Linked DNA regions of Homo sapiens: region 1 is linked to region 2. A link means that fine-mapping ties the variant in region 2 to the expression of a gene that starts in the linked region. Tissue or cell type: whole blood. Region 2 holds a variant in brackets; the other region holds the start of a gene. All regions are shown on one strand. Distances are from middle to middle.

The links. PIP is the estimated chance that this variant, and not a neighbour inherited with it, causes the effect.
Region 1: it holds the start of HIF1AN, and the variant in region 2 is fine-mapped to the expression of HIF1AN in whole blood (TOPMed, PIP above 0.99).

The regions. Positions count from the first base shown.
Region 1 is chr10:100,532,301-100,537,871 of GRCh38, reverse strand. It overlaps HIF1AN (hypoxia inducible factor 1 subunit alpha inhibitor), which reads right to left and starts at 1,929. Exons shown (of 8, transcript NM_017902.3): 1 at 1,737-1,929; 2 at 1,211-1,461. The coding sequence starts at 1,913. RefSeq lists enhancers at 1,950-2,009, 2,080-2,169.
Region 2 is chr10:100,490,827-100,496,499 of GRCh38, reverse strand. It overlaps SEC31B (SEC31 homolog B, COPII component), which reads left to right. Exons shown (of 26, transcript NM_015490.4): 18 at 69-242; 19 at 954-1,115; 20 at 5,617-5,673. Among named protein-coding and RNA genes, the nearest start is that of SEC31B, 26 kb to the left of the region's middle. The variant T/G (reference allele first, on the strand shown) is at 2,859.

The sequences.
Region 1 (5,571 bases), 41 kb before region 2:
AAAAATCCCATCATTATGACAACTGCTAAGTGTTAAGAAGAAGAAAAAAAGATATTTCAAATCCATTCACTTAGCCACAGACTGCTGATAAGGAGTCAGGAACAGGAGTGAGTGAAGCAAGAGACTAGAGAGAAACCCAGGGTTGGACACCAAATGCGAGAGGGTAATTCACCGTGAAGTACTGAGCGAAAGCAATTCCCCAGAGGCAGTGTTATAGTGTGGGACTGAATACTGTCTCGGACCTACATAAGAGGCTGTCCTCATAAGCAGGAATAAAAGCAGAGAGGAAGAATCACTGTCTTGTGTGTCTTGTGTTGCTGTTGTGATAGGAAAAACAAATTTAATCTGATCTTCCCTAAGCTAGAGAATCCTAACCTTCTTTACTGCAGAATCACAACAAACTATACAACTTTTCAGGTTGAACTATCCTCAGTCATCACAATACTTAAGGACAATGGCTACAAACAGGCATTTTCAGAGCTAAATCCAGTGACAAACATTTTTGTTTGGCCCCCTGCAACTTTTTTTCTTTAAATCTGATTTAGTTGCTCCATTTAAAGTCAAAAGATTTTAAATAAAAATCCTGATTTTGAACTTCTCTTGAAAATCGGAATATCTCCCAACCCTAGAACTGCACTCCAAAACTGAAGCAAGCAGAGTCAAGTAATGACCTCTCACCATGGTTTTTTGTTTTAGTTTTTAATTTTGCAGAGACTAGCTCTCACCACGTTTCCCAGGCTGGTCTTGAACTCCTGGACTCAAGCAATCCTCCCACCTCGGCCTCCCAAAGTGCTGGGATTACAGGCATGAGCCACCCCCGCCGGCCTTGGCTTCTCACTTTGAACAAGGCTTATGCCTTCAGCCTCATCACTGATTTCACACAGACGATATTACTCCTTCCATTCACCTGCCTGACCCTTCTAGGCAACTAACTCTTTATGAGGAAGAAGATGGGAACCCAGAGATTCATAGCTCAAGTTTAATCATTCCCTCATCCCTCAAGCTACAGAACTAGCTGGCTGTAGCACCAAGAACCACTAAGAACTCAAACCCCTTAAAGGCTGGAAGACCAGACTACTCCTTCAACTGGAATCCAGAGATGGGAGAGGCCAATCTCTAATTGACCCAATTCTGCCACACCTTCAAACAAGTATAGGAAAGAAAAATGAGTGTCCTAAATCCAACAGAAAATTAAGCTTTCGGAATTTACCTCTCTTCCCCTCCTCGCTGCTGTATATCCTGCAGTTTCTCAACGAACTCATGAAATTTCATTTCTTCCCTGTTGGACCTCGGCTTAAAGTTCTGGAAATTGGCCATCTTCTTCTCATCATAGTACAAGAACTTGTGGGTGCTGGCACTGTACACAGAGAAGTCTCCATTGCCAATATTCTCTTGCAGGTATTCAAGGTCCCATTTCAGGGCAGGATACACAAGATTTGTGTCGGTCAGCACCACAGGCTCCTAAATGAAAACAACAGGTGAAAAACACCAAATGAAGTAATGCCAAGGAGCCGGTGGGTTGGCCTCCATGATCCCAACTACTTCTCAACTTCAGAATAATTTCTCCTGTTAATCAGCACGAACCCCTAAGTTCCGTATCTCCTCGCCTTTCTCTCCATCTTCCCATAGGCCCTAGTCTAGAGCCCTGCCAGTCTCCCATCTCTTTCACCATTCACCTCTGACCTCTCAACCGGGTACCTTCCTCCTCTCCCTTTAGACGCGGCCCCGCCCCCCACCTCATTCTCAATAAGCTCCTCTGCCCGGGGGTCGCTCTGACTCAGACGCGGAATGGGCCTAGTCGGGAAGCTATAACTGCGCAACTGGGATTCATCCCAGGCGGGGCCGAGGGCTCCAGCCTCCTCCCGGGGCTCTCCAGAGCCAGAGGCCACAGCCTCCGCCGCTGTCGCCGCCATCTCCGCCGCCAGGGACGGCCCCCACCGGAACCGGAAGCTCCGCCTATTCCGGACCCCAAAAAAAAAAAAACAAAAAAACCACACACCCAACGGAAACCATAGAGATGAGCTGCGAGAGAGAGCGGTCCAGAGACATAAAGAACGCGGAGCCGAGGCCTGAGGGTGCGCCTCCTAATGGTAGTATGCAGCTCTACATCCTAGGCTCCACTGCTGAAGAAATGGGGCTAGACACTAGTCCCACGGAATAGGGACGACCTGGTAGAGCAAAACACAAAAAAAGTTGCCCCATGTGCCCGAGTCTACACAAGAGTCAAAGAAGGAAGCAAGTTCAGTTAGGCATTAAACTTTACACTCATGAATGGGGAGAAAAGCAAACTCTTGACCCACCTAAAGAAGTCAGAAGGAAAAGCAGTGATCACATTGGTAGATGTAGAGCAAAGGCTGACTGAAGGCTTAGGCAAAAGATATACAGCAAGTTGAATTCTTTCAAAATCAAAGACAGTTTTCTTTTGTTTAGCATCATTTGATTTTTCTGCCTATATCACCATGTCTCCTACTTGAATATATGTTTGCCGTGAATCGAATGTTATTAGAGGCCAACCATGGACATCTCACATTTTCAAACAATCTATACTGATTATAAAAGGCCATATTAATACCTCTATTGCTTACTTGGACAGTTCTTATGGCTGGCTGTGAGAGGCCCAATTCTAAGATGTATCCCAAGATTTGTACCCTACGGTGTACACATCCTGTATACATTTCTCCCCTTAAAAGAAAACACGACTGTGAATATGATAGAGCATCACTCCTGTAATTAGGTTAGCTTATATGACAAGGATGTAATTAAAGTCCCTAATCAATTAACTTTAAGGCAGTCAAAAAGAGGTGATTTATCCTGGTGGGCTTCATCTTATCACTCTAGCCCTTTAAATCAGGGCTAGAGGTCAGAGACAGAATCTAAGAGATTTGAAGCCACAGCACAGCTGTCCTGTTCACCTTGAAGGAGCAAACTGCCATATGGCAGGAAATGGCAGGTGGACTCTAGGAGCTGAGAAAGGCTCCTGGGTGACAGCCAACAAGAAAGTGGGCACCTTAATCCTACAAATGCAAGTAACTGAATTCTGGCAACAACCACTGAACTTGGGAAAGGACACACACGGAGCCTCAGATGAGATCGCTAACCCAGCCAACACCTTGATTTCAGCCTGATAAGACCCTGAGCTGAGGACTCAGCCAACCAGTACCTGGACTCATGGAATATGTGAGAAAATAAATTGGTGTTTTGGGCTGCTAAATTTACAGTAATTTGTTATGCAGTAATAGAAATGAATGCACTGGCTTAACTATGTAATTATGCTACATAGTAACCATGCTACACCAAACCGATAATAGGGCTACCTCTGTGGAAGTGTTTGAGGCTGCAGGGGGCAATCAAGGCTTTCATTTTATCTGCAGTGTTTGAATTTTTTTTTTTTTTTTGAGCTAGGGTCTCACTCTGTCACCCAGGCTGGAGTGCAGTGATGCAATCTTGGTTCACTGCAACCTCCACCTCCCCAGCTCAAGCAATCCTCCTACCATAGCCTCCCAAGTAGCTGGGACTAAAGGCACACACCACCATGCCGGACTAATTTTTTTTCCTTCTGTAGAGAAAGGGTTTTGCCATGTTGCTCAGGCTGAATGTTTGAATTTTTACAAGAATGTATTAATTCATAACCTTGGGAATTAAAAATAAATTAGGCCAGGCATGGTGGCACATGCCTGTAATCCCAGGACTTTTCAAGGCTGAGGCAGGAGGATTACTTGAGCCTGGGTGTTCCAGATCAGCCTGGGCAACATAGCAAGACCTCATCTCTACAAAAAATTTTAAAAATTAGCTCGGTGCGTTGATGCATGCCTGTAGTCCCAGCTACTAGGGAGGCTGAGGTAGGAGGATTGTTTGAGCCTGGGAGGTGCAGGCTGCAATGAGCCATGATCATGCCACTGCACTCCAGCCTGGATGACAGAGCAAGATCCTGTCTTACTAAAAATAAATAAATTAATTAAGATCAAGAAGATTAAAAGAACTAAAATCAGTAATGAAACAGGGATATTACTGCTGACTTTACCCCCCAAAAAAAGCATATAAGGACATACTGTAAACAATTGTATGTCAAAAAATTACAGAACCTAGATGAAATGGACAGATTCCTAGAAAGGCACAAGCTATAATAGCTGATTCAAGAAGAAATGGAAAATCTGAATAGACCTGTAACAAGAGATTGAATTAGGAATCAAAAACATCCCATAAAGAAAAGCCCAGAAACTGGGCATGGTGGCTTACATCTGTAATCCCTACACTTTGGGAGGCAGAGGCAAGCGAATCACTTGAGCCCAGAAGGTCGCGACCAGACTGGGCAACATGGAGAAACCCCATCTCTACCAAATCCCCCCAGCCAAAAAAAAAAAAAAAAAAAAATTAGCAGGCATGGTGGCACGCCTGTAGTTCCAGCTATTCGGGAAGCTGAAGTGGGAGGATCACTTGAGCCCGGAATGTGGAGGTTGCAGTCAACTGAGATTGCACCACTGCACTCCAGCCTTTTGAGACAGAGCTAGGCCTTGTCTCAAAAGAAAAGAAAAGGCTGGGCACAGTGGCTCATGCCTGTAATCTCAGAACTTTGGGAGGCCGAGGTCGGGGGGACCACCTGAGGTCAGGAGTTCGAGACTAGCCTGGCCAACATGGTAAAACCCCCATCGCTATCAAAAATACAAAAATTAGCCAGGCATGGTGGTGCACGCCTGTAGTCCCAGCTACTTGGGAGGCTGAGGCAGGAGAATCGCTTGAATCCCGGAGGCGGAGGTTGCAGTGAGCTGAGATCGTGCCACTGACTCCAGCCTGGGCAACAGAGCAAGATTCCATCTCAGGAAAAAAAAAAAAGAAAAAGAAAAAGAAAAGCTCAAGACCAGATAGATTTACTGATGAATCCTACCAAACATTTTTTAAAAAATTAACACTGGTCTGGGTGCAGTGGCTCATGTCTGGAATCCCAGCACTTTGGGAGGCCACGGCGGGTGAATCACGAGGTCAGGAGACCGAGACCATCCTGGCTAAAACGGTAAAACCCTGTCGCTACTAAAAATACAAAAAAATTAGCCGGGCATGGTGGCGGGTACCTGTAGTCCCAGCTACTCAGGAGGCTGAGGCAGGAGAATGGCGTGAACCTGGGAGGCGGAGCTTGCAGTGAGCCGAGATTGCACCACTGCACTCCAACCTGGGCAACAGAGCGATACTCCGTCTCAAAAAAAAAAAAAAAGAAAGAAAGAAAACTATAGACCAATATTTCTTATGAATATAGATGCAAAAATCCTAACAGAATACTAGCAAACTCAGTGTAACACCATATAAAAGAATTATATACTATGACCAAGTGGGATTTATTCCAGGAATGCAAGGTCAGTTCAACATCTCAGAATGATCAATATAACACACCATGTAGTAATCAATATTTTATTGATTAATATTTATAATCAACATAATACACTATATTAGTAAAAGAAAAAACCCTACATGATCATCTCAATAGACACAGAAAAAGCTTTTGACAAACCCCAACACCCCTTCCTGATAAACACAGGGTTCCAAATGATACTGTAAAAAAGCAAAAAAACCTACAGAGTC
Region 2 (5,673 bases):
GCTGCGTGGACTTAGAGAGCAGGATATGCCTCATTGAAGGCTTACCACCCTCATCCTTGCCCTTACAGGACCTGATGGAGAAGGTGATGGTTCTTAACAGGAGCTTGGAGCAACTGCGGGGTCCTCATGGGGTGAGCCCAGGCCCTGCCACAACCTACAGGGTCACTCAGTATGCCAACCTCCTGGCAGCCCAGGGCAGCCTGGCCACTGCCATGAGCTTTCTACCCAGGGACTGTGCTCAGGTAAGTGGGGCCATGTGGAGAGAGCAAACCATTTCATTCAGTCATCTAACATTGATTGAGCACTTCCATATTCCAGGCACTATGCTAATGCTGAAGCTCCTAGGATAGATAAGATGGAATCCCTTAAGCACCTCACAATCTACTGGGGGAAGATCAGATGTTGATGACTTATAGTGCCATAACAGAAGCTTATACTGAGCACTGTGGGAGTCCAGGGAAGGGACTGATTTTTGCCTGGAGAAGTCAAGGAAGGCTTCTCAATGGTTAAAACAGCTGAGCTGGACCTTCAAAGAGAAGTAGCTTACCAGCAGATATAGAGCATTCTAAGCAGAAAGAATAGCAAGGAGGGAGGCATGCAAGTGTTTGGCAGGGATTCAGGAACCTTGAGTCATCTCTAAGGGGGCTAGAGTATAGAGCGGGGGTGTCCAAGGGTCAGAATACAGTCGTGGGTGCTTAGTTTCTGTTTCTGGTTGGGCCAGTAAAGCCCCTTCCTCATCCCGGTTTTCCACTTATCACTAGAGACAAACCAAAAACCATGGCTTCAGGCTGCTAAAAACCTAAAACAAAACAAAACAGAACAGAACAACAACAACAACAAAATAACACAGGTTGGACAAGCTTGGTGTAGAGGGTCAGCTGAAATTTGACTGCTACCTGGGGCCTTGATTGTTTTAATTTCTTGACACAGCTCTTCCTCATTAAAACTTATAGCCACCAGTTCAGCAGCTAAGAGATCGGCTTTTTCATGCTCAAGGTTCTGCTGTCTTGGGCCAACAGTCTCCCCCTTTCCCCTTCCCCCGGATTGTTGTGGGAGCTACCCTCCACTCTAAAGAGACATCATCTTACAGATTGGGATCCCAGCCTTCTCACCAGGTAAGACCTCGTTTGTTCATTCATTTGTTCATTCAATAATACGTGCCAAGCATGGTTCTGGGCACTTGGAATATATTGTGAACAAAACTGATGAAAATTCCCAACTTCCATAGAACATAGATTCAGTTCTTTTTATAATAAATAACTGTTTATTGAACTACTAGGCTCTTAGGACATAAAGGTGCAAAAATTGTGATACTTGCCCTCAAGTAGCTCATAGTGTAGTCGAAAGATAGATATGTAAAAAATAGCTACAGTAGGCCTGGCGTGGTGGCTCACGCCTGTAATCCCAGCACTTTGGGAGGCCAAAGCGGGCAGATCATGAGGTTTGGAGTTCGAGACCATCCTAGCCAACATGGTGAAACCCCATCTCTACTGAAAATACAAAATAATGATCTGGGCATGGTGGCACGTGCCTGTAGTCCCAGCTACTCGGGAGGCTGAGGCAGGAGTATCACTTGAACCTGGGAGGTGGAGGTTGAAGTGAGCCCAGATCATACCACTGCACTCCAGCCTGGCAACGGAGCGAGACTCCGTCTCAAAAAAAAAAAAAAAAAAATAGCTACAGTAAAATTCATAAATACCATGATTGGGGTATGGCAAGGGGCTATAAGATCACACAGATGAAAGTAGTTTACTCTGTATGGTGAGGTTGTGGGGGCAGTCCAGGGAGTGTTTCAGAACAAGTCGGATGTTTGATCAGAGTTTCAAAGATTAAAAGGTTTTAGGCAAAGGGATGAGCAAGTGAAGACTGTTTCAGGCACAGAGAATAGCATGTACAAAGGCACTGAAGCAAGAGTAAGCCGAAGCCTTTTGAGAATTACTATTATTTAATTGGGGCTGCAACACAGGTGTTTGTGGCTGTGAAGTTAGATGAAGCTGGAACAACAGGTAGGAGTTAGATCACTAAGGACCTAGCATTCTGTGCTAAAGAACTTAAACTTGACAGGGAGGAGCTATTGAACAGTTTTAGGAAGAGTGACATAATTAGCTGTATGTTAGGAAGGGCCAGGCTGGAGGGAGTTAGGCTATAGTAAGGGATGATGAAGACATGAAATAACTAAAGCTAGCCAGTGAGGTTGGATTTGAAATACTTAGTACTTAGTAGATAGAACTGACAGAATTGCTGATAGTTTGGAGAGGTGTGTGTGTGGTTGGGGGTACTGAGGGAGAGGAAAGAGGTTCTGGCCAAAGTGCCCGGGGGGATTGGATACTGTTAAGATGTGAGGCCAGAAGCTTGCTAGAGCTGCCGGAGAACAGAATCCAGGGAGATTTGGATACAGTTACCAGGCAGAAGCTCTGATGGCTCATCTTGTCCCACCTTCAATCCCCACCCTAATTCCTTTTCTTTTTTTCCCTCCCTTTCCTCCCTCCCTTTCTTCCCTCCCTTGTCTCCCCTTTTCCCCTTCCCCTCCTCTCCTCTCTCTCTCCCTCTCCCCGTCTCTTTTCATTTAAAAATAACCATAGATTCACAGGAGGTGGCAAAGAAATGTACTGGGATGTCTCCTGCATCCCAACAACACCCCGCCCCGTGTCGGCATCTCACACAACCACAGTACGCTATCAAAACCAAGAAATTGCCATTAGTACAATCCATGGATTCAGATTTCAGATTCAGTCTCCACCAGTTTTACATATTGTTAGGTGTGTGTTTATGTGTGTTTATGCAGTTTTGTCACATTGTGGTGTGTAACCACCACCAAAATCAAGATACTCAATTTTACCATCACCACAAGACTCTCT[T/G]GTGTTACCTCTTTTATAGCTGCACTTATTCTGCCTCCCTCATCCTTGGCTTCACCAATATGTTCTCCAGCTCTATCATTGTTATTTAACGATTGTTACTTAAATAGAATCATGGCAATATGTATCCTTTTGAGATTGGCTTTTCTCCCTTAGCATAACTTCTTTGAGGTTCATTCAAGTTGTTCTGTGTACCAGTAGTTCACTCATTCTTATTGCAGAGTAGTATTCCATGGTGTGAATGTACCATGGTTTTAATTTTTTTTTTTTTTGAGATGGAGTCTTGCTTTGTTGCCCAGGCTGGAGTGCAGTGGCGCGATCTTGGCTCACTGCAAGCTCTGCCTCCCAGGTTCACGCCATTCTCCTGCCTCAGCCTCCCGAGTAGCTTGTACTACAGGCGCCCGCCACCACGCCCGGATAATTTTTTGTATTTTTAGTGGAGATGGGGTTTCACCATGTTAGCCAGGATGGTCTTGATCTCCCGACCTCGTGATCCGCCCGCCTCGGCCTCCCAAAGCGCTGGGATTATAGGCATGAGCCACCGCGCCCGGCCCCAGTTTTAATTTTTTTAGCCATTCAAACTTTGAAGGACATTCGGATAGTTTCCAATTTGGGGTATTATGAGTAAAGCTGCTATGAGTATTCAAATACAAGTTCCTAACTGACATCTTTACTAGGTTCAGTCTTTCAGTCCATGAATGTGGCATGTTTCTCCATCAGCGTTTTATAATTTTTGTCACACCAATCCTGTACATATTTTGTCCAATTCATACTTAAGTATTTAATTTTTTATATCACCTGTCAGCTCATGCCTACTAAGTATTTAATTTTTTTCTTCAGCAGTTTAAAATCAAATTTCTTGGTTTCCACTTGTTCATTGTGAGTATATAGAAATGCAGTTGATTTTTATGTGTTGATCTGGTTATATCCTGTGACTTTCCTGAATAGTTATAGAAGTTTTTTGTGGATTCCATGGGGTTTTCTAATAGACAGTCATGCTGTCTACAAATCTGCAAATAGATAGTTTTCTTTCTTTTCAATCTATATGCATTTAATTTCTTTCTTATGCCTTATTGTAGTGACTAGGACTTCCAGTCTCTGTTAAATAAGAATAGTGAACATAAGCCAGGCGCTGTGGCTCATACCTGTAATCCCAGCACTTTGGGAAACTGAGGTGGGTGGATCACCTAAGGTCAGGAGTTGAGACCAGCCTGGCCAACATGGTGAGACCCCATCTCTACTAAAAATATAAAATTAACCGGGCATGGTGGCGCATGCCTGTAATCCCAGCTACTCAGGAGGCAAGGCTGGAGAGTCGCTTGAACCCGGGAGGTGGAGGTTGCAGTGAGCTGAGATTGTGCCATTGCACTCCAGCCTGGGCACCAAGAGCGAAACTCTGTCTCAAAAAAAATAAATAAATAGTGAACATGAATGTTCTTGCCTTGTTTCCAGTCTTAGAGGAAAAACATTCAATATTTCAGCATTAAGCATGATGTTAGCTTTAGGTTTTTCACAGATGCTCTTTATGAGACCAAGGACATTTCCCTCTATTCCTTGTGTCTTAATCCATTTTGTGCCACTATAACAGAATACCACAGACTGGGAAATTTATAAAGAACAGAAATTTATTTCTTATGGTTCTGGAGTCCAAGATCAAGGCACCAGCAGGTATGGTTCCAGCAGGTACGGTTCCACCCTCTAGTTGCAAGATGGTGCCTTGCTGCTGTGTTCTCACATGGCAGATAGCAGATGTGCAAGAGAAAGCAAACCCACTCCTGCAAGTCATTTTTGTAGTGGCATTAATCCATTAATGAGGGCAGAGCCCTCATGACCTAAACACTTACAAAAAGTCCCACTTTCCCAACACTGTTGCATTGAGGATTCAGTTTTCAACACATGACTTTGGGGAGCATATTCAGACCATAACACCTTGTGTACTAGATCATGAATCGGTGTTGAATTTTGTCAAATGTTTTTTCTGCATCATTTCTGTCATCATGTTATTTTCATTCTTTAGTTTGTTGGTATAGGGGATTAAATTGATTGGTTTTTAAATATCTTGGATCAGCTTTGTATGACCTGGAATCAATCCCACTTTCTTGTGGAATATTATTTTTTATATACATTATTTGATTTGCTAAAATTTTGTTGAGGATTTTTGTGTCTAAGTTCATGAGAAATATTGATGTGTAGTTTTATTTTCTGCTATCTTTTTCTGTTGCTGGCATCAGGGTAATACTGGCCTCATGAAATTAGTTAGGAAGTGTTCCTTCTATTTTCTGGAAGAGATTACATAAACTTTGCATTAATTCTTTGACTGGTGAAATTCTCCAGTGAAACCATCTAGGCCTGGAGATTTCTTTTTTGGGAGCTTTTAAATTACAAACTCAATTTCTTTAATGGTTATAGGACTATCCAGATCTTCTTTCATTGTGACTGAGTTTTGGTAGTTTATGGTTCTTGAGGAATGGGTCCATTTCTGATAAGTTGTCAGATTTATGAATGTAAAGTTTTCTGTAGTATTCGTTTATATTTTTAATGGCTTCAGGGTCTGTTGTAATAGTCCCTGTTTCATCTCTGATGATGATTTATATCTTCTTGCTTTTTATCTTTATCAGTTTTTAGATGTTTATCAATTTTATTGATTTTTTTCCTCAAAGAACTAGTTTTTGTTTCATTAATTTTCCCTATTATTTTTCTGTTTTCTATTATTTACCTTTCTCTTTCCTTTCCAAGAGCTGATGTTTTTTTCTCTTCATAGGTCCCAACTCCATCTCCAAGGCCAAGGGTTTTCACCCCTCAGTCATCACCAGCGATG